Linked DNA regions of Homo sapiens. The protein of the gene in region 5 purifies or fractionates together with the protein of the main gene of each other region. This does not show direct contact. Each region holds a gene or a part of one and is shown on either strand. Other genes may lie near its edges. The genes, in order: SOAT1, MTMR3, TIMM21, TOMM70, EYA3, UBE4B and WDR97.

Evidence for each region.
Region 1: the proteins of EYA3 (region 5) and SOAT1 purify together in Homo sapiens (affinity purification with mass spectrometry, with the first as the bait; one large-scale study listed by BioGRID). This does not show direct contact.
Region 2: the proteins of EYA3 (region 5) and MTMR3 purify together in Homo sapiens (affinity purification with mass spectrometry, with the first as the bait; one large-scale study listed by BioGRID). This does not show direct contact.
Region 3: the proteins of EYA3 (region 5) and TIMM21 purify together in Homo sapiens (affinity purification with mass spectrometry, with the first as the bait; one large-scale study listed by BioGRID). This does not show direct contact.
Region 4: the proteins of EYA3 (region 5) and TOMM70 purify together in Homo sapiens (affinity purification with mass spectrometry, with the first as the bait; one large-scale study listed by BioGRID). This does not show direct contact.
Region 6: the proteins of EYA3 (region 5) and UBE4B purify together in Homo sapiens (affinity purification with mass spectrometry; one large-scale study listed by BioGRID and IntAct). This does not show direct contact.
Region 7: the proteins of EYA3 (region 5) and WDR97 purify together in Homo sapiens (affinity purification with mass spectrometry, with the first as the bait; one large-scale study listed by BioGRID). This does not show direct contact.

Annotation. Positions count from the first base shown.
Region 1 is NC_000001.11:179,338,797-179,342,296, reverse strand, and holds part of SOAT1 (sterol O-acyltransferase 1), read right to left. Parts: intron 2,860-3,500; coding exon 2,752-2,859; intron 1,270-2,751; coding exon 987-1,269; intron 288-986; exon of another isoform or gene 184-287; coding exon 105-183; intron 1-104.
Region 2 is NC_000022.11:30,019,174-30,022,673, forward strand, and holds part of MTMR3 (phosphatidylinositol-3,5-bisphosphate 3-phosphatase MTMR3), read left to right. Parts: intron 1-306; coding exon 307-1,711; intron 1,712-2,855; coding exon 2,856-2,966; intron 2,967-3,435; coding exon 3,436-3,500. UniProt on the Homo sapiens protein: Lipid phosphatase that specifically dephosphorylates the D-3 position of phosphatidylinositol 3-phosphate and phosphatidylinositol 3,5-bisphosphate, generating phosphatidylinositol and phosphatidylinositol 5-phosphate.
Region 3 is NC_000018.10:74,158,523-74,161,031, forward strand, and holds the end of TIMM21 (mitochondrial import inner membrane translocase subunit Tim21 precursor), read left to right. Parts: 3' UTR 1-2,009; downstream 2,010-2,509. UniProt on the Homo sapiens protein: Participates in the translocation of transit peptide-containing proteins across the mitochondrial inner membrane.
Region 4 is NC_000003.12:100,394,590-100,398,089, forward strand, and holds part of TOMM70 (mitochondrial import receptor subunit TOM70), read right to left. Parts: intron 1-3,500. UniProt on the Homo sapiens protein: Acts as a receptor of the preprotein translocase complex of the outer mitochondrial membrane (TOM complex). Recognizes and mediates the translocation of mitochondrial preproteins from the cytosol into the mitochondria in a chaperone dependent manner.
Region 5 is NC_000001.11:28,082,111-28,085,610, forward strand, and holds part of EYA3 (protein phosphatase EYA3), read right to left. Parts: intron 1-3,500. UniProt on the Homo sapiens protein: Tyrosine phosphatase that specifically dephosphorylates 'Tyr-142' of histone H2AX (H2AXY142ph). 'Tyr-142' phosphorylation of histone H2AX plays a central role in DNA repair and acts as a mark that distinguishes between apoptotic and repair responses to genotoxic stress.
Region 6 is NC_000001.11:10,126,958-10,130,457, forward strand, and holds part of UBE4B (ubiquitin conjugation factor E4 B), read left to right. Parts: intron 1-2,434; coding exon 2,435-2,491; intron 2,492-3,500. UniProt on the Homo sapiens protein: Ubiquitin-protein ligase that probably functions as an E3 ligase in conjunction with specific E1 and E2 ligases. May also function as an E4 ligase mediating the assembly of polyubiquitin chains on substrates ubiquitinated by another E3 ubiquitin ligase.
Region 7 is NC_000008.11:144,110,739-144,114,238, reverse strand, and holds part of WDR97 (WD repeat-containing protein 97), read right to left. Parts: coding exon 3,500-3,500; intron 3,376-3,499; coding exon 3,243-3,375; intron 3,139-3,242; coding exon 3,017-3,138; intron 2,814-3,016; coding exon 2,753-2,813; intron 2,608-2,752; coding exon 2,458-2,607; intron 2,353-2,457; coding exon 2,095-2,352; intron 2,016-2,094; coding exon 1,890-2,015; intron 1,793-1,889; coding exon 1,709-1,792; intron 800-1,708; coding exon 722-799; coding exon of another isoform or gene 671-721; intron 583-670; coding exon 358-582; intron 263-357; coding exon 77-262; intron 1-76.

The DNA.
Region 1 (3,500 bases), about 150 Mb from region 5:
GGAGGGAAGGAAAGAAGGAAAGAAGGGAAGGGAAGGGAAGGGAATGGGGTGGGGGGAGAGGAGGGGAGGGGAGGAAGAAATAATGAACAAAAGAAATTACATACTTGATTTCTCCTTAGCTGAATTTAGTACCCGAGGCACGTTCTCTCTGACAAATGAGTGGGCCTTCATTACAAAACGAATCTACAAAAGCAGGAGGAAAAAGATGTCTCTTCAAAGAAAGTCTCCTGCAAGTGTCCTTTCCATTAGTCAAATGCATTATAGATAGCCAGTAAAGTCAGAAAATCCTGATAAGTGTATAAACAAATTAAAATAAAACCTTTATTATATAGTTACATGACAAAACAATGAATCTGACATTTCAAAAGTGAAGTTTTTAATTATGAAAATATTTTATAATTTAAATGACTTTTACAAAAAGTATTCAGAAACAAAATCTTGATGCATCAAAAATAATTCAATGTGGCCGGGCGCGGTGGCTTACGCCTGTAATCTCAGCACTTTGGGAGGCCGAGGCAGGCGGATCGTAAGGTCAGGAGTTTGAGACCAGTCTAGCCAATATGGTGAAACCCCATCTCTACTAAAAATACAAAAATTAGCCGGGTGTGGTGGCAGGCGCCTGCAGTCCCAGCCACTTGGGAGGCTGAGGCAGAAGAATCACTTGAACCTGGGAGGCAGGGGTTGCAGTGAGCCGAGATGGTGCCACTGCACTCCAGCCTAGGTGACAGAGCGAGACTCTGTCTCAAAAAAAAAAAAAAAAGTTCAACGTAATTTATTTATCAAAATTCAGAGAACATGGAAGCTACAATGAAACTTAAGAGGTGAGATGATTCTAGTTTAACAATTTTACAGATAATGGCAAAAGAACAATATATGAAAATTTATCCAAGTTAATACAGCTAAAAATAATAGTATCAGTATGTCATCATCATTATTATTATTTTAGCCGAGGACAGCATCGCCTTGGGTAACACTTAAAACCTTACCTGCTCGAATATAATGATGAACCGGGAAGCTGGTGGCAGTGTATATGCTAACACAACATATGTTGGTCCAAAACCTAGAACTCCAATCTGGAAGATCATGAAAAGAAAGCCATGGAAGAGAGAACGGATCAGCGGATGAGAACTCTTGCTATAGCCAGTGGCCCAATGTTGAAACAGAAAATAGGGAACTGAAAATGTAGACAGGAACATGATCCACCAGGTCCAAACAACGGTAGGAAATTTGCCAAAAGCATAAGACAGGAGGCTGAACTCAAGCACCAGCCTGGGGAGAAAAGGTACAGAAAAAGAACATAGAGGTGAATTTTTAATATACACTGAGTTCACAGAATTTAAAAGTTTCAAACACCAAACTTTCAACCTTAGGAAACACCACAACGTTAATACGCTGAAGTCATGGATGTAATAGTTCTGCTAGTTAGAGATCTGCTTCTAACCATCTGCTTTACAATATATATATATATATATATATCAACAATATATGTTCTTTAGAAACAAATTTTCTAAAAGCCCTAAGATAAATACAGTCTTCAAACTTAAGATATCTAAGATAATTGGACTTTGAACTTCTGAAAGATTAGATTCTCACATTAATTTTCTAACTGTAAAATATTCTATGGAAAATATTCAAACAGCAATCGTTCTTATGTACAAAAGATGATTTTTCAGAAGAAATAGGTACAATTTAAAAATATGTTAATATACTATACCATTATCTCCAAACTTAATTTTCAAAAAAAGTACATAATTCAATCCATGATTACCACGCTGTCATTTTTTAAGCTACAATTTGAGTTTTAAAATTTTATTTTGAGATCTGGTCTCCTTTGCATCCAGGCTGGAGTGCAGTGGCACAAACACAGCTCCACTGCAGCCTCAACCTCCCTGGCTCAAGCGATCCTCCTATCTCAGCCTCCTGAGTAGCTGGAACTACAAGTGTCTGCCACCACGCCCAGCTAATTTTTAAATTTTTTGTAGAGATGTTGCCCAGGCTGGTCTCCAACTCCTAAGCTCAAGTGATCCTCCCGCCTCGGCCTCCCAAAGTGCTGAGATTACAGGCACAAGCAACCATGCCTGGCCTATAATTTGACTTTCACATTAAAAAGAAATATCAACTTTTTCAACCTTCAATTCCAATAAGCTACTTGTTTTAAGTAACCATCTTAAATAAAGACAATCAAAAAGTTAATAAGTCATATACAGTTATCCCTCCCTATACATGGGGGGTTGGTTCCAGGAAACTGTGCAGACACCAAAACTTATGCAAATTCGAGGCCCACAGTTGGCCCCGTGGAACCCACAGATATGAAAAATCTGCCATTCTTATATGTGTGTTTTGCATCCTGGAATACTCTAGATCCCAATCAGCCTTTGCTTGCAGATGTAGAACCCATGGATACAGAGTGCTAAACACATTGATTGAAAAAATTCTGTGTATAAATAGACATGCACAGTTCAAACCCGTGCTGTTCGTAGGTCAACTGTGTATAAAGTTCTCCCATTTGGGAAAATTACCTAGAAATTACTGATTATGGTCTATTCAAATAAACCATTTTAAAAATAAAAGTAATGAAACTTCTAATTTTCTCCATCAGTTAAACTTTTCAGGGCAAAGGAATATCACCCTCAAATCTGCTGCTTTAGGATTTCCTGAAGCAATTTAATCAATTTACCCTTTACCAAAATTTAGTGAAAACCTCTAACTTCTCATGCATCAACTAGCCAGCCATCTTTTTTGTTGTCTTACCTTCCTTCATCAATGTAATCTACTACAAGTGTGCTGAGGATAAAGAGAATGAGGAGGGCAATAAACATGTGATATATTGTTCTGATGTGGTCCACTTCAAGCAGTTCACTGTAAATGTAGTTCAAACAAAACAAGTTAATAATGTATATTTAAATTTAAAACACCATAAAATCTTTTCTTAAAGCAGTTAACTTAAAGCAGTTGAGAAGATGCTTAATCCACTCTCCAAAAACATCTCAAAAAAGAATGGTCTACATTCTTTAAAACCTACCAGAAATGGATGTTTTCTAAGTAAACAAAGGCCAGTCACTAAAAACAGGAAACAAACTATTTCAAATGTTAAGAATTTTTTAATCCTATTCATATTCTACTCCCTAAATTTAATATATATTAAGTACTACCTATTTCCAAAATGTTAAAATTGACATGAGTTTCTATAATGTTGATCATGATGATGATGATAACCAATTACTACCCTACACGTCTATAAAACTCAACCATTTACAAAGATTTTACCTTCTCATTGACTTTTGTATTTAAGACTGGTCTAATTTTCTTTTAGAATATAACAATAATATAGATGACTTTTCCTAAATAATCTTTTATATCTGACTAAAACAGGTTTTTAAACTTGTTTTAACTTGTTTTTGGAAAGATAATGCTAATCTTTTAAATGATTTTGAGTAATCTAATATACTACTACTCAATCTCTGGACCAAGGATCTTCACAGTCTAATAAAAACTCATCT
Region 2 (3,500 bases), on a different chromosome or scaffold from region 5:
GCCTGGGCGACAGAGTGAGACTCCGTCTCAAAAAAAAAAAAAAAAGAAAATAGCACTTGCTGTTAGCTCATTTGTATGTATGGGGCATGGGGTTGGGGGAGTTTGAAAGGAAATCTGCACACTAGGAGGACTTGTTCCGGAGCTTTGCTGCTCCAGCAGTCTGGGCCTCGCTCCAGAGATGCTACAGCTCCATGAGTAGCCATAATGGACCCAGTTATGAAACAACTGCTTGTTAAAACCTATTGTCTCCTACTTCCTCCAAACAGTTTCCAAGATTTTCATTTCCCCCAAATTCCTTTCCTTTAGGCTACCAAAGACTAGATCATACGACAATCTGACCACAGCCTGTGACAACACAGTGCCTCTGGCCAGCCGGCGCTGCAGCGACCCCAGCCTGAACGAGAAGTGGCAGGAGCACCGGCGCTCACTAGAGCTGAGCAGCCTGGCTGGCCCTGGAGAGGATCCCCTTTCTGCCGACAGCCTAGGGAAGCCCACCAGAGTGCCGGGGGGTGCCGAGCTTTCTGTTGCAGCCGGAGTAGCTGAGGGGCAGATGGAGAACATCTTGCAGGAGGCCACCAAAGAGGAGAGTGGAGTAGAGGAACCTGCCCACAGGGCAGGCATTGAGATACAGGAGGGTAAAGAGGACCCTCTCTTAGAAAAGGAGAGCAGGAGGAAGACACCTGAGGCCTCAGCCATTGGACTTCACCAAGACCCAGAACTGGGTGATGCTGCTCTGAGGAGCCATCTGGATATGAGCTGGCCTCTGTTCTCACAGGGCATTTCTGAACAGCAGAGTGGGCTCAGTGTTCTCCTCAGTTCTCTCCAGGTCCCCCCCAGGGGAGAGGATTCCCTGGAGGTCCCTGTGGAGCAGTTTCGAATAGAAGAGATTGCAGAGGGTAGGGAGGAAGCAGTTCTTCCAATCCCAGTAGATGCAAAAGTTGGCTATGGTACCTCACAGTCATGTTCTCTGCTACCTTCCCAAGTCCCTTTTGAGACCAGAGGACCAAACGTGGACAGTTCTACAGACATGTTAGTGGAAGATAAGGTGAAGTCAGTAAGTGGGCCCCAAGGTCATCATAGATCTTGCCTTGTAAATAGTGGCAAGGACAGGCTTCCTCAGACCATGGAACCCAGCCCTTCAGAGACAAGCCTGGTCGAGAGGCCCCAAGTGGGGTCTGTGGTGCATAGGACTTCCCTTGGCAGCACTCTCAGCCTGACACGTTCCCCTTGTGCCTTGCCTTTAGCCGAATGTAAAGAGGGGCTTGTGTGCAATGGTGCCCCAGAGACTGAAAACAGGGCCTCAGAGCAGCCCCCAGGTCTTAGCACCCTCCAGATGTACCCCACACCCAATGGGCATTGCGCCAATGGGGAGGCTGGTAGGAGCAAGGACTCACTGAGCCGTCAGCTGTCTGCTATGAGCTGCAGCTCTGCCCACTTACACTCAAGGAACTTGCACCACAAGTGGCTGCATAGCCACTCAGGAAGGCCATCTGCAACCAGCAGCCCCGACCAGCCTTCCCGCAGCCACCTGGACGATGATGGCATGTCAGTGTACACAGACACGATCCAACAGCGCCTGCGTCAGATTGAGTCAGGCCACCAGCAGGAAGTAGAAACTTTGAAGAAACAAGTCCAGGAGCTGAAGAGTCGCCTGGAGAGCCAGTACCTGACCAGCTCCCTACACTTTAATGGAGACTTTGGGGATGAGGTGGTGAGTAGGCTGTGGTATTCCTCCATAGCTGCCCAAGGAGACGGCATGCTGAGGCTGGGTGCCCTTTGTGCCCAGTGCATGGTGATTGGTACAGGTTGTTAAAGGATTGGAAAGGTCCAGAGTAGCCCTGTTAAGAGAGGCTGGAGATGAGCCTCCACGACAGCGATGGCAGCCTGCCTGTTTTCTGCTTCGCTTACTTTCTGCAGATGTCCTGTTGAGGCCGTTGGAGAGGAAGAGACTTAGCATGCACTGCATGGTTGATCAGATCTCTCAGACACAGGATCATAAGTCTTCAGAAGGGCTTGAACCCATGGGCAGAATGACATCTGTAGGGCAATGCCAAGTTATTCCTGTCAGATTTTAGTGCCTGTTCTGCCTTAGTAACTACAAAGTATTAGTCCTTCCAGACGTGGGCTATGGCTTTGAAGGTTCAGTTCTTTTTAAACAAATATTTATACCCATCCTGTGGCAGATGCTGCCAGTAGAAATGGAGAGAAGGGACTGGTTTCTAGCACTGTTGAGGAGTTAGCTCTGATGGGGGTTTGTGGCTGGAAATGGGGGTTCCAGAGGGGGAGGTTCTCAAGGAGGTGCTTTCCTCTCTGGGTGGACTTGACTCAGGCAGCTCAAGTACAAGTGTGAGCCTGGCTCTCAAGTGGTCAGCGTACATTAAAGGCGGGCACATCCAGTGACTTTCAGTTCAGAGTGACTTGGCTTTTCCTTCATGCTAATGATAGTTTCTCATGTTCCCAGAGAGTCCTTCTAAGAAAAGGAGGGCATCCCGAAAGCACTCAGCTTTAACTTAGTGGCAGGCAGGGTTGGATTGACAGGCCCACTGGAGCAGCTGACATACAGAATTCTCATTCCATTTTGGTCACTTCCCTCTCACTCACTTTCTGGAACCCTGAGGGCCTGTTTTTCTACTCCAGAGTCACTGCACACAACCTGTGTATCCCTCTCCCAGCTGAGCCCAGGCCCACACTGCACTTCTTCACCCCAGTTCTTGATGGCTGATGCATCTGCAGATTCGGCAGTCCTAGCACTCGGCCCCACCCAGAGTCCTCAGTTCTCCCTTCTTCACCAGGCCTTTTCTTCTTTTGGGAGGAGACCAGGTTCATTCTGTTCAGCTGTGTTTGTTTGCCAACAGACTTCAATCCCCGACTCGGAAAGCAATCTGGATCAGAACTGTTTGTCTCGCTGCAGCACAGAGATTTTCTCTGAAGCCAGCTGGGAGCAGGTGGATAAACAGGACACAGAGGTACAGGCTCAGCCCCTGCTCTGAGTGCCATCAATTTAACTGTTTTGTGGTTCTTCTCCACCCCCATTCCCACCCCATACCCCTGGCCAAGGAAGCACCTCCCAGCACAGCTAGCCCTGAGCCTCTGGCACCTTAGCTCCTGGGAACCCACATGAAGCCTAGGATTTCTGAGCCAGGGAGACTCAGCAAGCTGGCCCTCCCTCTTCATTGCCTCTATGAACTGGAGCCTTGCCAGCTCTCACAGTGACCCAGGGTGCTGCTGCCTGCTACTTTATCTCAGGGGAGATTGGAGTCCCCTCCAGGGAAACGATTTGGACGCCTTTCTTGTACTGTTGACATCAGATCTGCTGGGCTGGTGCCACTGGAGCTGATGTGGTCCTTGTGACTCTTGCTGCCCCCAGCATGGCTCTGCTGGCTCCAGCTGGATGGCCCATCTCCTGTCAGTAACCTGGTCCCATCTGTTTTGCAGATGACCCGTTGGCTTCCTGACCACCTGGCCGCCCACTGCTATGCGTGCGACAGTGCCTTCTGGCT
Region 3 (2,509 bases), on a different chromosome or scaffold from region 5:
TCCGTTCTTCACAGCTGCCTTCCAGAATGTGTTCAAAAGAAAGACAAGAAGGAGTGTATGGCTTATAAAGTGAATCTAATACAGTATTTGTTGCATTTAAACAAACTAGACATTTTCTTACGGAAAAATTATGAAATACAGCATATTTTATGTTCTCCCATTGACTCAATCATGACAATATTTCTGCTTTAACACCATCTTTCATGATTAGAAATGTTTGTTATTGGAAATGTTACACCATGTAAATAAAGGAAATAGATTTTAGTATTGTATTCATTTTATATTATAGAACTGCATAATGTCTGCAGAATAAAATTAAAACTAACAAATATGTCATTAGCAGCTGCCCTCCGCATACTTTGGAATCTGACTTGAGATAAGCATGTGAAAATGGTTGAGGGCCATAGGGAACCAGATGGTAAATACATTCTTCAAAATTGTGTGAGTTTTAGGAATCTGTCTCATATTTCGCGCTTCATGAATTAAGGGCCTAGTACATAGCGGGAAAAGTACACACTCCCAAGTTGGGTAGACCTGGGCACCCACCCCACCTTTTCTAGCAGGTGCGTGGTCAAGTGTCCCTGTTGTGTGGGTTGTTAGGATGGCAGTGTGATGAGAGGTACAAGCCTGGACCATAGAAGGCAGCCATGAAGTGCCCTCATCCCCTTTAGAACTTACTTGCACTGATACTTCTGACTGCCAAAAGAACATGGGAGTGAATGAGAGACATTCAAATACGTGTGTGAGGCCCCTTAAAGAAAAAAAAAAAAAAAAAGGAAATTCTATTTTATTTGAAATATTTGCTGGGGATTTGGAAAAAAGTGACCTTCACTTACAAGATCCTGATTCCATATCTATGTAAGTGCTATGTGCATTGGGAGGGGTCTAGAACCATGTTTATCTGCGGTGGCTTCAGTGTGAGGTATCCCCTCTGATGTGTTTGTTCCTTCTCCCCGAGAACTGTCTGTAGAGGAATTTCTGATGTGTTCTTGAAATTTTGGGATATTCAGGATAGAGAGACCTCCAGGCAATCTATCTCCCCTTTTTACTTTATCTCCCTGCTTAATTTAGTTAGTTTCTTGGTTTGACTGCTTGTTTTAGATGTTTTTAATTATAAAAATTTCCAACATTTAAGGAGTATAGAAAATATAACAGACACTCGTCTCCCTGACGTAACACACTTTGACTGAATGAGGCCTTAACTTAGGCTTTCTCTCCTAATCGTTTTTTCCTTTGCTATAGAATGTTCAGTTTCAGGATTCACTGAAATGTCAACATTTAACAGGCTGAGAAGTTCCACTTGCTATCCTAAACTCAAAAAAGCAGCCCTGCTCTTCAAACAACCTGCTCAAACTGTAGCTTGCTGAAGAAGCCCGGCATCTGAGCTCAGGTGGGGATTTAGCCACCCTCCATGGCCCTGTCATTTGACTTAAGACTGTTTGCTTTTTCTGTATTCATTTTTATGCACCTGCCATTTTACAATATGCTCATGCCCCTTTAAGATCTGAGCTTTTGGCCAGGCGAGGTGGCTCATGCCTATAATCCCAGCACTTTGGGAGGCTGAGGCAGGTCAATCACTGGAGGTCAGGAGTTCAAGACCAGCCTGGCCAACATGGTGAAACCCTATCTACTAAAAATTCAAAAAAAAAAAAATTAACCAGGCACGTTGACACACTCCTGTAATCTCATCTACTCAGGAGACAGGAGAAGCGCTTGAACCCAGGAGGCAGAGGTTGCAGTGAGCCAAGATCATGTCACTGCACTCCAGCATGAGTGACGGAGTGTGACTTCGTCTCAAAAAAAAAAAACAAAAAACAGATCTGAGCTTTTATAATTAGAAATAAAACTAAATTACTTTTTCAAAAGGAAAAACTCTGTACCAATAAGAGATTCTTCTGTATAGCCACAGGAAAATGTGATGTGTAACTCTCTAGATCTCTGTTTTCATTCCCTCTGATGTACCCTACTAAATGTTAAAATTTCTGTGTTTTAAGACCCTCTTTAATCCACTTTGATTGTGGTGTCTCTGTCCATGGGCTTACTCCCACTTTTTCTCTGAATTCTAGGGCACTTATCTGACTCTGCCTGGTATCCCCTTCCGTCATATTTGTGAATTTGCAAATGCTCTGGTCATTTTCCTCCAAGGCCTCTGTCATTCCTCCACACCTGATCAGTGAACTCTTTTCACAACTAACTCTAGAGCAGACTCTCCTGTCACTGTTTGCTCTTCCTCCTTAATGAAGAAATTATATGCAAGGCAAGAGTTTATCAGAAGTTCTGCTTTTAGCCCCGTGAGATTTCCAGCCTAACTACCCTGCAAGCTCCCTTCATAACTATTGTTGATCAATGCTAGTAATACTTTATCCATTTATTTCCATTTGGTAAGCCATTACAATATTACTTCTGTTTCTCTTATTCTCATCCAGAGACAGTTCCCCAATTCCTAATTCATAGATTTCTACTCAGGGTTACACTTACTATTTATTTTATATAGTACCACTCATGTGTT
Region 4 (3,500 bases), on a different chromosome or scaffold from region 5:
ACCTCCCGGGTTCAAGTGATCCTCTCCCCTCAGTCTCCTGAGTAGCTGGGATTACAGAAACCCACCATCATGCCCGGCTAATTTTTGTATTTTTGTAGAGATGGGGTTTCACCATGTTGGCCAGGCCAGTCTTGAACTCCTGCCCTCAGGTGATCCACCTGCCTCAGCTTCCCAAAGCGCTGGGATTACAGGTGTGAGCCACTGTACCTGGCCAACCAATTGTTACTTTCATATGAATCAAACCTAGGATAATAATACCTAAGATAATAAGGATTCAAACCTAATAAGGAATAAAACCTAAGATAATAAAAAAGTCCTTTCCCATTTCACGTCTGGAAATTTTAAAAATGACAACCAACCCCACCTACTAAATCATAATAACTCTTTACCTAGGAAGAATATACTTTTATAATGACTGCTTCTGCAGGATTATGATTGTAGGTCATGCATAATCAACTGATTTACAAAAAGTATGCCCAAATGAGGTTTAAGATTTACGGCCAGGCGCGGTGGCTCACGCCTGTAATCCTAGCACTTTGGGAGGCCGAGGCAGGCAGAGCATGAGGTCAGGAGATTGAGACCATCCTGGCTAACATGGTGAAACTCTGTCTCTACTAAAAATACAAAAAATTAGCAGGGTGTGGTGGCACTCGCCTGTAATCCCAGCTACTCGGGAGGCTGAGGCAGGAGAATCGGTTGAACCCGGGAGGCAGAGGTTGCAGTAAGCCGAGATTGCGCCACTACACTCCAGCCTGGGCAACAGAGTGAGACTCCATCTCAAAAAACAAACAAAAAAACCCAAAACAAACAAACAAAAAATTCACCAGGCATGGTGGCGAGCTACTCAGGAGGCTGAGGGAGGAGAATCACTTGAACCCAGGAGGCGGATGTTGCGGTGAGCAGAGATTGCACCACTGCACTCCAGCCTGGGTGACAGAGCGCGACTCCAACTCAAAAAAAAAAAAAAAAAGAGAAAGGAAAAAAGATTTCCACGGAATCCAGCATTAACTGGTAGAACAAAAATGAAGAGCTGGAAAATTTGAAAAATATACCACTTGTGAAATTTATATATACATACACACACACATATATAAAATATAAACTTAGGGATGTCAAAGGAACCCTTAATTATTAGTCAAAAAATGAAACTTCATTCATTCAACACTTGCTATGCACCTGTATTAGGTTCTGGCAATACAATGGTGAACAAGATAGAGCCAGTCTCAGCCTTCACAGATTCAAGAGCATAGCAGGAAACAGCAATAAGCAATTCTAGTACCACGTGGTAAGTGCTATAAAATGGAAAAGTCCAGGGTGTTATAAAATCACATAGTGGTGTGCTTAGGTAGAGAGAAGTTTCAGAAAAGATGAAATGACCTCTGTATTGTGATAAGGAGACTAAGAATCCATGAGGCTGGTATCAGGTTTTTTTTTTTTTTTTTTTAAATCAGGAAAATGGAGTACCTCAGAAGCAGCAGGAAAAGTTATGACATTTAGAGCACAATATGAAATACTGCCAAGGATTAAGATTGAAAAGTGTTAACTAAGCTTAGAGGGAATGTCATTGGTGTCCCTGATTGATTTTTTAAAAATGACTCAAAACAGATCATTTGGGGGAGAGAATGACTTCATTTCAAACAAGATGACCAATAACAACAGTTTATGCAGTCCTCGACCCTTTACTAAAATGTGTAGGTACATCTTCCCTTTCCTACTGTAGTAGGCTGGCTTAGATTATTGGTTCCTAACCATTTCATGTGGGCTAAACTCATTTCATGGGCTAAACATATTTAATGCTAAATATGAACACAAGAATGATGCATTTTTTATCATCAGATTAAATAACAATTGGACAAAAAAGTTACAATGAAGTCAATAATGCTTTTAAATAAGTGCATTTTTCTAGAAAATCACAGGATGTTTGAAAAAGAAGTATCTGGGACATTGGTACAGCCAGGATACCATGCTTGGAATATATGTGTGGTGGTCCCTCGTGATGACTCAAGCCCACAGATTGAGAAGCACTATGGATAATATGATCTTCTAAAAAGCCTTGCAATTTAAAATTTTTTTTTAATTCTTCAAGTTTAAAAAAATTACTGAAGCAAAATGGCACATCATGGTAGATTTTATAATAGTTCAAAATGGAATATGATCTAATACTTTAAGCACCTCAGTCTTAGACACTATCAACTGTGACTAAATGCTTTTCTTCAGTGATACCCCAATATTCCCATTAATTAAAACAACTATGAATATCCTTTGCACTTCCTTTACAAGTTTTTGCTATCCCAGAAAAAAGGTAATTGTGCACACTAATTGTAAAGGAAAATCTCCAACCCAATAGACAGAAGTCCAGTAATTCTATCAGATCATTTTACATTAAGGTAAACATAAGCCAAAAGACAAAAATACAGATTTTCCATTCTATTTTCTGATATCAAACCCTAAACAGACAATATTTGTCTATTTATTCATTCCTTTAAAAACTGTAGCTATTGCTCAGGTGGAGAAAGGACAGTTAGGGCATCAGGATTCTGCCAGGTTTCCATCAGTGAAAGCAAATGCTTCTGGTTGCGAAATCCACCGAGGATGCCAATTTAGAGGTGCTATTCAAATGTACAGCAGTTTATCCAACCACAGATAAGAAATTACAATTACTGATCAATTAATTACATTTAGATAGTCTAATAATAACTCTAAGGACCAGACTATTAAAAGAAGACAAAAGTAGTCTTTCAATATTTACTGGTCACCAACAGTTAAGATATAAATTTCCAGTTTAAAAAAATCACAAAGACCTTCCTATTGTTGCTTTACCAAAGAACAATCTAGTAATTCAAAGATTACAGGTGTAGGCCTACATATTCCACAAGATGGACAATGGTAAGTGCAAATGTTTTGCCTTATTTTATTTGGGGCCAAAAATAAATCATTTTAAAGCAGTTTAAGTTACACAAAGAGTCCAATCTTAAATTCTAATTTTTAACAGCAGTCAGGTGAATAAAAAGTTATTTGTGGTCAGGGGCAGTGGCTCATGCCTGTAATCCCAGCACTTTGGGAGGCCAAGGCGGGTGAATCACGAGGTCAGGAGTTTGAGACCAGCCTGGCGAACATGGTGAAACCCTGTCTCTACTAAAAATACAAAAATTAGCCAGGCGTGGTGGTGCGTGCCTGTAATCCCAGCTACTTGGGAGGCTGAGGCAGGACAATCTCTTGAGCCCAGGAGGCAGAGGTTGCAGTGAGCCGAGACCTCGCCATTGCACTCCAGCCTGGGTGACAGAGTGAGACTCCGTATCAAAAAAAAAAAGTTATTTGTAAAACTAAAAAACTCTGAAATATCATGAAATTAAAAAATCATCAGTGTTGATCCAGACAACGTGGAAAAGAGGAATTAGGACATCTAAAATGTGAAAAGGAGATGGCTAGGTTTTATCAAATACCAATGGTACAGATCCCCTGGGATGAGGTGGGGTGGCTGAAACCACAATGAAATGTTA
Region 5 (3,500 bases):
GCTACTATAAAAAAACAGTATACTTAATGTCTCAATTAATAAGAGTTAACATGAGAATTAAAATTAGTATTCCTAATCAAATGTCACTTCTTACCAGAAATATTTATACTTTTTCTGTAAACCAGATTCTACGATTCTCGACTGTTTTCAAAATATTCAGAAAAATAATATCATTATCTGAGTACAAGACTCCTGCATTAAGGTGCACCTCAACTTATATAAAATAATCTCCTTCCCCCAGATATTTGATTAAATTTTTTTATTTGGGCTTAATAAAGGAACAAAAGAATCATCTTAATATGATCAATAATATTCTAAATGACTATTATTTGCATCTTCTCATTTAGAAAGTAATTTGTTTGTGAAAGTTCCCCTCATCTTTTCTAAAGTAAAAATAAAATCACTAATTTAAATATACTACTCTAAACATGATAGCCCTAAAGAGATGAATGTACTCTAAACATGATAGTCCTGAAGAGATGAATGTCCTTAATTTCACATAAATTTCCAAATTTGGAAATGAGACCAGTGGCAAATCAGATGTTTCAGTTTTAGTCTTCTGTTTTATATTTCAAAGTTGTTAAATTCATATGGGAATGGTAAGATTTAAGTATTTTAAGACTATTACATAAATTTGTTTAATACTCTGAAGGTAAAAGAAAAAAATTAACTTCGAGGGGCCATTTTATAAAAAATAGTGACTTATCTCCAAGTAACTCCAAAGTAATTAACTTCCATAAGATAATTTTTCTAACGGGGGAGGAATTTGATCCCTTATTGCTTTCTTAATATATGGTTTTGCCATCTGAGAAACATCGGTAGTAAAAGGTTTGCAATTTGCCTTAAGCCAGCATTAGTAAAAAGGCCAAGTAAAACCCTCCTTAAGGTTCCTAACCAAAAGCAGTATTCTTTTGTGTTTCAGACAAACTAGATTTTTAACCTCAACCTATAAAGAAAGAAATCACTAAAGTAGCAGACCCTTGTACAAATAAGATTAACTCAGGAGCCAAAAAGACTAAGTTCAAATCCAGCTCTTTGATAACTAGTTGTGTTACTTTGGGCAAGTTACATAACTTCTGTACCTCAGTTTCCTTATATGTAAAATGGAGATAGTAAGAAGAGTACCCTTGGCTGGGCACGGTGGCTCACGCCTGTAATCTCAGCACTTTGGGAGGCTGAGGCAGGCAGATCACGAGGTCAGGAGTTCAAGACCAGCCTGACCAACATGGTGAAACCCCATCTCTACTAAAAATACAAAAATTAGCCGGGCTTGGTGGCACACGCCTGTAATCCCAGCTACTCAGGAGGCTGAGGCAGGAGAATCACTTGAGCCCAGGAGGCAGAGGTTGCAGTGACCAGAGATTGTGCCACTGCACTCTAGCCTGGGCGACAGGGCAAGACTCCGTCTCAAAAAAAAAAAAGAATAGTACCCTTATTTCATAGGGTTGTAAAGATTAAAGAGTTAATACATGTAAACTACTTAAAATAGTTCCTGGTACATAGTAAGTGCTGTATAAAGTTCACTTTTATTTTTACTGTTTTACCACTACAGAGTTTCATGGTTCAGTTGTGAAAGTTTCCCAAGTGAAAATTATTTGATTGTATCTATAACGAAAGAACATGATTTTATGTTAATTAAGTTTATTTAATTCTAATTATGTTGTCTTACGTTTAATTCAGAAATGTACAAATAAGATCAAATTCAGAATTTAAGTGTACATATCAGCCTGGTACAATATTACCTAGCCACATAAATAGCCTAAATATGTATTACTGTAACTGTACACAGTAGGTGCCTAAACAATATTTGCTGAAATAAATGTATTACAAAGAGTATTGCTAATTATTTTCTAGGGAAGAAAATGAAAACCATCTAACTGCTACAAACATTAACCACAGCTAATAAGTTAAAGTGCATCCAAAACAATCTGTAGTAAGATCTTCACGATATTAAGCACTGACTGCCTTGGGCTGATCTGTTAACTTATTTACAGTAAGTTGGCACTATTTAAACTACACATTCCTTTTCTGATTCAAAATACTATTGCATACTTAAATGGGAAAACAGCAAAGACAAATTTTAGGAAGCCCATATTTTAAATGGCTGTTTTTAAATATACTACTATAAAGAACAGAGAAAATGCCTAAATTACTTCTACATTTAATAATTAGCTACCCTGGAACTTAGGTTGATGGAACTAAATAAAAATATCAAGGATGATATGTTCCATTATTTGCTATGTTATCTGACAGTAAAAGATACCAGTATCAACAGGGTAGTTTAGAGCTTAAGCCATACACTTTGTAAAAGAATATGCACTTGTATTTTTAAGTTAATTAGAAAACAGAAAGTCCACCTATTTTCCACCTTACTATCAATATAACAATTCAACCTTTTGGTATAAACCAATTAGATGAACATCTGGGAAGCATTGACTATTCCAAAATATATATATATATATATATATATATATATATATATATATTTTTTTTTTTTTTTTTTTTTTTTTTTTTTTTGAGATGAGTCTCGCTCTGTCGCCTAGGGTGGAGTGCAGTAGCACGATCTCAGCTCACTGCAACCTCCGCCTCCCTGGTTCAAGCAATTCTCCTGCCTCAGTCTCCCGAGTAGCTGGGACTACAGGCATACGCCGCCACGCCCAGCTAATTTTTTGTATTTTAGTAGAGATGGGGTTTCACCGTGTTGCCCAGGCTGTTCTCCAACTCCTGAACTCAGGCAATCTGCCTGCCTTGGCCTCCCAAAGTGCTGACTATTCCTAATATTTTAAAATACACATTTCTATTTTGAACTATTCTTCCTCCATTTAAATCATACATGAGCTAAAGTATCCTGTTGTTACATGCAGAACAGAAATATCTTTTGGACAAACCGCTACCTAAAAAGAAGTTCCATGAGGCTTTTATTTATAATCAAAACAAAATAAATGAAGTCATGAAACAGCTTAGGCACAGCACAGAAACCATAATGCTACAAGGTACAAGTGACAAGGACTTGTTGGAGGTATACTTTGTTTCTTAAATTTTCAAAACTACATCAGCCGCCTGTGGGTGGTGGCTCACACCTTTAATCTCAGCACTTTGAGAGCCCGAGGCAGGCAGATTGCTTGAGTCCAGGAGTTTGAGATCAGCCTGGGCAACATGGTGAAACTCTGCCTCTCCAAAAAAATTTCAAAATTAGCCAGGTATGGTGGCATGAACCTGTAGTCCCAGCTATTCTGGAGGCTGTGGGAGGATGACTTCAGCCCAGGAGGTCAGGGCTGCAGTGAGCCGAGATCGTGCCACTGCACTACAGCCTGGCCAACAGAGCAAGGTTTTGTTTTGTTTTTTGTCTCAAAAAAACAAACAAACAAACAAAAAACTACATCTCCGTAAACACAGGATTCAAGGACCAAAAAACAAACAAACAAAACAAGTAAGACAAAGTACATTAGCAAATAAAATGACAAAAAAGAACCAAAAATAATCAAACCAAACCAAAATAA
Region 6 (3,500 bases), about 18 Mb from region 5:
GTCCATGAGATCAACCTTGTTTTCAAATTTAAAACATGAAATCACTGTGTTGGCCATGCAGAGTGTTTGGTGTGCAGTGAGATGCATCAGTGAAGACAGTTAGCAGCCTGGTACATCTTCCACCTATCCAAGTCCTAGACAGGAGTTAAATGCACTTATTACAATGTACTTTGTATAGCTTATGAAAAAGATAACTTATCTCCTAGCAATGAGCATACCATAGTTGGGATGAAATTTTGTTACTTAAAAAAAAAAAACCTATTAAAAATGCAAATAAAAAAGGCAAAGCTGTACATACTAAGAAAATGAATACAATTTTATCTTTATGTGTTTACTTTGTGCAGAAAATCTCAGTGTAGCTCTCTTGTTCACCCTCCCTGTTTCCTAAGGTCATATTTACTTGGGAAGTAGAAATCTGCTTAGCTCTTTAACGCACTTAGAGCAGGCATACATTGTGGACAGAAGCTTCAGCTAGATTCCCATGGGGAGGCTTGAATGTTGTGAAAATGCTGAAACTAGAATGAAAATTAGAAGCTCCTTTCTGTTCTGAATTCGCTTATTTGAAATTTTGGGAGAAAAGTATTTTGAAGTGTTACTGAATATTTTCGTTGCAGAAGTGTAAAGGAAAAAATATCAAAATGAAATTAGTTTATTCTATGTATAAATTAAGTCTTATGTAAATTGAGACCATGGTTGTTTTTCTTACTGTATTTATTTCTTTTACTTATTCCACTGATTGGATTCCATTATACCATGAATTCATTACTGACGATCTGTTCTGTGCTAGACACTGGTGATACAGAAGCTAGGAAGACAAGGTCCCTCTCCTCAAGGCACTCATAATCTACTGCAAAAATAAGAGCTACAGCGCAACAGTTGAACAGATACTGTGATAAATGTTAAAACAGAGCTGTACACAAAGGGTGTATTTATCTATTTAAAAAATTCAAACCTGTCATGGCACTAAAAGGCTACAAGAATGCTGGGAAATTAGAAGGTGAAACCAGAATTCCTACTTTAAAAAATAATTTTAAGTGGATTTATGCCAGAGCTCTTTCCATTGTACATGTTATTGGGGCTCCTGGTAAAATTATTTGAATCCTTATGTATTGTTCTCCCTGTGGCAGATAAAAGGAAGTGGAATAATCTGATTGTTTGAGTTCAGTGATGAAATATTTTAGTGAACACTAATTATCACCATATTATGTAGATGTTCCTTCATGGGACTGTTGGCTTTTGGGTTGTGGTGTGAATTAGCTTGATGTTTCAGTGAGGAGCTTTTAGCATCTGATATCACCAAAATGTCCTTTTGTTCAAAAGACAGAGGCCTCCATTGTGGTAGACAGTGATTTCATTTTGTGCCATTATTGATGCTTGCATAATAACGAGGACACAGTGAGTGAGAGGGTACAATAATGAGAGGCAGGAAGCGGAAGACTGTTGAAGCTAAAATCAGAAATCATTGTGATCATTCTCTAGGTCAGTGGATCCTGCTGTGCCATACGTTGGAATCACCTTGGAATCAGCTGGGGATCTTTAAAGGTGTTTCTGCCTGGCTCCCCACCCCAGACCTTGTGATTTAATTCACCAGGGGTGTGGCATGGCATTGGGGTTTCCAAAGGCTTCCCATGTGATCCTAATATGCAGCCACGTTTGTGAACTCCTGCACTAGGCAGTGAGAACGCTTCCTTCTGAGTTGAGGCTGCCTGAACCTCAAAGGCATCTCAACGTTGTGTCAATGCCTAAATGCACTCTTCGGCTCATGTAGCAACTTCTAGAGCTGCGTCCGAATCACAGAGGAAATTAACTGTTGAAAATAATGTTTGATTGAGTTACCATGGGCATGCTAAATTATGTTTATGTCCCTAAAAAGTGTTTTTCATCGTTCTCTAATGTTAGGATGGTTGGATGTCTGAAGGAAAGTGTTGGAATTCTTAAAAGTACTAGAAATCTTGAAACCAAGTTATGTTTTTAAATATGTTTTGAATTTGATAGCTTATTAAATTGTAATTATTTATAGTCATGTTTAACACTGGCAAGAGGAGCCATCTAAAGTTTATGAAATAAATCTTTTTGACATGGAAAGATATGAAGTGGAAAAACTTTTTTGTAAAAAACATATATAGATACAGTACACAAAAATATATCTGAAAACTGTTGCTCAAAATATCAATAGAGGTTATCTTTGAGGGTAAAGCTTGAGTAATTTTTAGTTTCATTTTATATTTCTGTTTTATTTCAAGTTTTCACATTGCATGTGTTTTAGTTTATTAATCAGAAAAAGTAGTGAAGCTGCTGCCATTTCAGAGGGAATGCATGTGTGCCATTTTAGAGGGAACGAATTTATAGCAGCAGTTAAAACTGTTTCTTTATGCTACAAATGACAGTCAGTTTAAGATGAAATGCATTTAAATGACTCTGATCTTATTTCTAGGCACTAGGTGAGCTCTGTGAAACCAAGTTTGGGAAGACACACCCTGTGTGCAATTTGGTAAGCACTCACCTGATGGGCTTGCACATTTTCAGTGAATATATCATAACCCAGAAGGCATTCCTCTAGTGAGATGGCCTGGAAAATGTCTCTTGAAGGACATTTAGGTGTAGGCGGAGGTAACGTGTCTGGGAGGCTCTCAACTGTTACATTTTTGTTAGACACGTTATATCCTGCATTACAGTTGTTCATTTCTATGATTTTTTTCCCTTTTTTTTCTAAGAATCTCACTCTGTCACCCAGGCTGGATGGAGTGCAGTGGTGGGATCTTGGCACACTGCAGCCTACGCCTCCTGGGTTCAAGTGAGTCTCGTGCCTCAGCCTCCCAAGTAGCTGGGAATACAGGCATGCATTACCATGCGAGGCTAATTTTTTTGTATTTTTAGTAGAGATGGAGTTTTACCATGTTGGCCAGGCTGGTCTCGAACTACTGACCTCAGGTGATCCACCCGCCTCAGCCTCCCAAAGTGTTGGGTTACAGGCGTGAGCCACCGCACCGGGCCTGTTTTTTTTCCCTTGACAAGTATTGTACAACTAAACTAACAAGAGGTATGGAAAAGTTATTCGAGTCCTTTGGTGGTATAAGAAGAGTTCATTTGAACTTCATCCAATAGTATCCTGAAACTTAAACATTCTTTTTTTTGAGACAGAGTCTCACTCTGTCACCCAGGCTGGAGCGCAGTGGCGCAATCTCAGCTCACTGCAACCTCTGCCTCCTGGGTTCAAGCGATTCTCTTGGCCTCAGCCTCCCCAGTAGCTGGGATTACAGGCGCACACCACCACGCCCGGCTAATTTTTGTATTTTTAGTAGAGACGGGGTTTCTCCATGTTGGCCAGGGTTGTCTCGGACTCCTGACCTCAGGTGACCCACCCCCACCCACACTGGCCTCCCAAAGTGCTGGGATTACAGGCGTGAGCCACCATGCCTGGCTGAAACATAAAAGTTTTAATAATATCTTGTGAAAATACAGAGGAGCTGGAGAGTTTTCATTACATTTTTACCCCACCG
Region 7 (3,500 bases), on a different chromosome or scaffold from region 5:
CCCAAGCCAGCCCCTACCTTCTCCCCTGTCCCTCACCCTAACCCATGCTTCTCATGCATCCCCAGTTCCCTCCAACCTGCAGGCTGAAGATGGGGAACAACTTTTTGAACCAGGTCTGGTAGATGAAGAAATGCAGAAACTTGGGCAGATGCCCGTAATGCTCATCCAAGAGCAAACTCCCATGACGGTGCCAGGGATGAGGGTGGGTCCTGGCAACCTTGCAGCTGCGCCGCCGGGGCTCCTGGGTCCAGTCCACAGCACTCTAGGGGAGCAGCAGTGGCTGCAGGTCCCACCTGTCTGGGTCTCAGTGTAAGCCCACCTCCCGTGGTGGCCTGGGGCCTCTGCCTGAGCCTCTACCTGATCCTCCAGTTCCCAGGAATCCAGCTGCTGGTTGGAGTGCGGGCTCAGGGAAGCCAAGGCCCAGTCCAGCTCCTCGTCTTCCTTCTCCTCCTCCTCTTCCTTCTTGTCTTCCTCCCCCTCCTCCCCAGGCTTCTCCCCCATCCATTGGAGCAGCTTCCTCTGCCACTGGGTTTGGGATGGCCTGGGGCGCCACAACCACAGGGCATCCTGGCTTGCCCCTGGCTGCAGAGGGGCAAGAGATGGTGCCTGATGGGTTGCAAGGACAGCAGAGCCCTCCCCTGCCGGCAAAACCCCCAGCCCTGCCCCTTGCCTCGAGCTTTCTCTGGGAGGCGAGCTGAGTCGGGGATCCGAGGCTGCTGACCTCCGCATTTAGCCACATCTGCTGTAGCACCGCGGAGTTGGGCACATAGCCGGGGAAGCAGATGGGCCTCAGGCAGTGCTGGAGGTGGGCACAGCAGGGAATGCTGAGGACCTGGATTCCCCAGCCTGGACACCACCCTTGGTCACCTGTATAACCTCTCAGAGCCCCTCAGCCGCCAGTCCAGCTCTGCCTGCCAGGCCTCCGAGAGCTGGCTGAGCTAGCAACCCCTACTCTCAACACAGATGGCAGGAGAACCCTGAGATACCAGGGGCGAGGCCCTCAGTGAGCATCAGCTCTGACAAACGAGAAGGGAAACCTGGAGAAGTGCTGGCTTCTAGGGGCCCTGACACCCTGCAAGCTCCTTACAGGACTTGGCCCCAGCCCTGGGACAAGAAAGTCTAAAAGAAGCACAGGGGCCAGGGAGGAAGGAAGGAGCTTGGAGAAAGGGCAATGAAGAGCATGATGGTGGCACCCAGGCCCAAAGAGTCAATTACCCACCTGGGCAGGTGACAGTGCCAGGAATATGCTGGGGGAGGGGCTGAGGCCTGCCTGGGCACCTGGTGTACGTGAGGGTGGGAAGACAGTGGATTCTAAAGGGCCAGGTTCCCTTGACTTTGCTCCTCTAAAGGGCAGGGATTCTGATCTTCCAGGAAAAGTCCCTAGGGGACCTGCCCTCCCAGCGCCTCCACGGGGGAAAGGGGTGTGTGGCATAACCGGCTGGGGGGACTGGCTTTGCCTGATGTCAGCTCCCAGAGCAGCAAGGAGCCTGTGGCCACAAACACAGCTGTACTGGAACAGGGCTAGACAGAGGGTGAAGGGTGAGGGGTGAGGGGTGCGTGGGAGGCTACAGCCTGGCCCTCTGGTTGTAGGTGGGCATGGCCCTTGGGTCAGATTTGGACACAAAGATTTGTAGCAAAGGGGAGATGGCAGGCACAAGAGTGATGCCTGGAGAGGAGTGGCTCTCCAGGAGCTGGGAGGGGGTCTCACCTTGTGGGGCTGCACGGTGGCAGGAAAGAAGCCCCTGAGGCTAGAGAGAGGTTCCTTGTCCCATCTCTTTGGCAGCAGTGGGATCTGGGGGATGGAATGGGGGCTCAGAACAACACAGCCCCTAGCACCCCGGCAGCTCTGCCCCTCAGTAGGTGGTACCCCACCTGCCTGGGTCCCTCACCCTGCACTGCAAGTGGGAGGATGGCAGGTCCAGGGCCATGGTCGTCCTCCCTCGGAGCTGCTCCAACTGCAGCTGCAGATCCAGACTGATGCCCAGGTAGTGGCTCAGTGAGGAGCGGGCCAGAAGCTGGGGCATAGGAGGAGTCACAGGGTGGCAGAGGGGTCATGGGGGCCCAGCAGGCATGTGGGAGGGTGGGAAGCCTCACCTGGGATGCCTTGCTGTGCACCCTACGGTGGGTGGGTGGGATCGGCACTGTGACTCGGGGAGACTGGGAGAAGTGCTGGCCCAGGGCTCCCAGGTCCTGTGGGGACAGGGCTGTTGGCACTGTTTGGGCTGCAGTGCTGACCTCAGCCCGGGCAAGACAGTGGGCAGCTTGGGGTACAGCACACACATCCCGGGTCTCTCTCTCCACTCTGAGGGTCCCGGCACTCCACTGCTGGGACCCCCTTCCAGACTGCATGCCCTGGGAGGTAGCAGGAGCAGACAGACCATCAGAGACCAGGTGGGAGGGGTGGGTGGAGAAGAGGGGCCAGGGTCAGGGCTGGGCTGGGGGAGGCCCTACACCTACCAGCAGGCCAGAGCCGTAGATCAGACGGAGGTAATTGTCAAAGCCTTCCTGGCGCTGCTGCCAGGAGGGTGGGGGCTGGGCTGCTGGGACCACTAGCCCCAGCCTCAACTGCTGAAGGTCTCGGTCCCGGGCCACTATGGCGTCCAAGTCCTGAGTCAGGGTTCAGGGATCAGCCTGCTCTTCCTTGAGCCTTGCTATGTGCTGCCCGGGCAACCATGGGGATCCCAGGCCTGCCCCAGGGCTGACGGCTGGGGCCTGAGCCGGGGCAGGGCGGGCTAAGGAGGACCCACCCCACCTCCTTCGGCACCAGGTGCTGAGATGTTGCCCTCCGACGATGGATGAGAGACAAGGCCTCGCTGCAAACAGGGACAGGCACAGGTGGGATGCTGGGTGGCATGCCAGTGGGCTGGGGCAGAGGCTGGGACAAGGACCAACCCCAAACGGGTGTGCCAGGGCTCAGGCAGGCTTGTATCAACTCCAGAGGGCCCCACACCGCCAGGCCCCCACCCAGAGTGGGAAAGGAGGGCCTCCAGGAGGGCTGAGCAGGCCTGCATGGGACCTGAGGCTGGCTGCCCCATGGAGGTTGGTGAGCCTCTGCAGTTGGGCGGAAGTCAGTGACTCCTGGCTCATCAGTGGCAGCGGAGGGTCGTCCACCACGTCTGGGGCCTTCCGGCACATCTTCTGAATAGGGGAAGGAGCCTGTATCCCTGGCTGGGGGAACCTGGGTCTGCCCCCCAAGGTGAGCAAGGGGGGCCCACCTTGCTCACTCTGTCCTCACCACACACCTTAACTAGGTAGGATGTAGGCAGGTAGAGCCTGTGGGACACCAGGCAGAGGCGGGATCCCAGCGCCAGCACCAGGTCTCCACTGTTGCTGCAGAAAGCCAGGGCCTGAGGGGCACCATTCAGCTGCAGGAGCCTGGAGAGGCACCCAGGGCAGCCGAGGCTCAGCAGGGACAAGGCCTTCTCCACTCAGTCCAGCCAGTGGGCTCTGGTGAGGAGCAGAGGTAGGAGACCCCAGCCCTCCCCACCTCCTAGCCTACC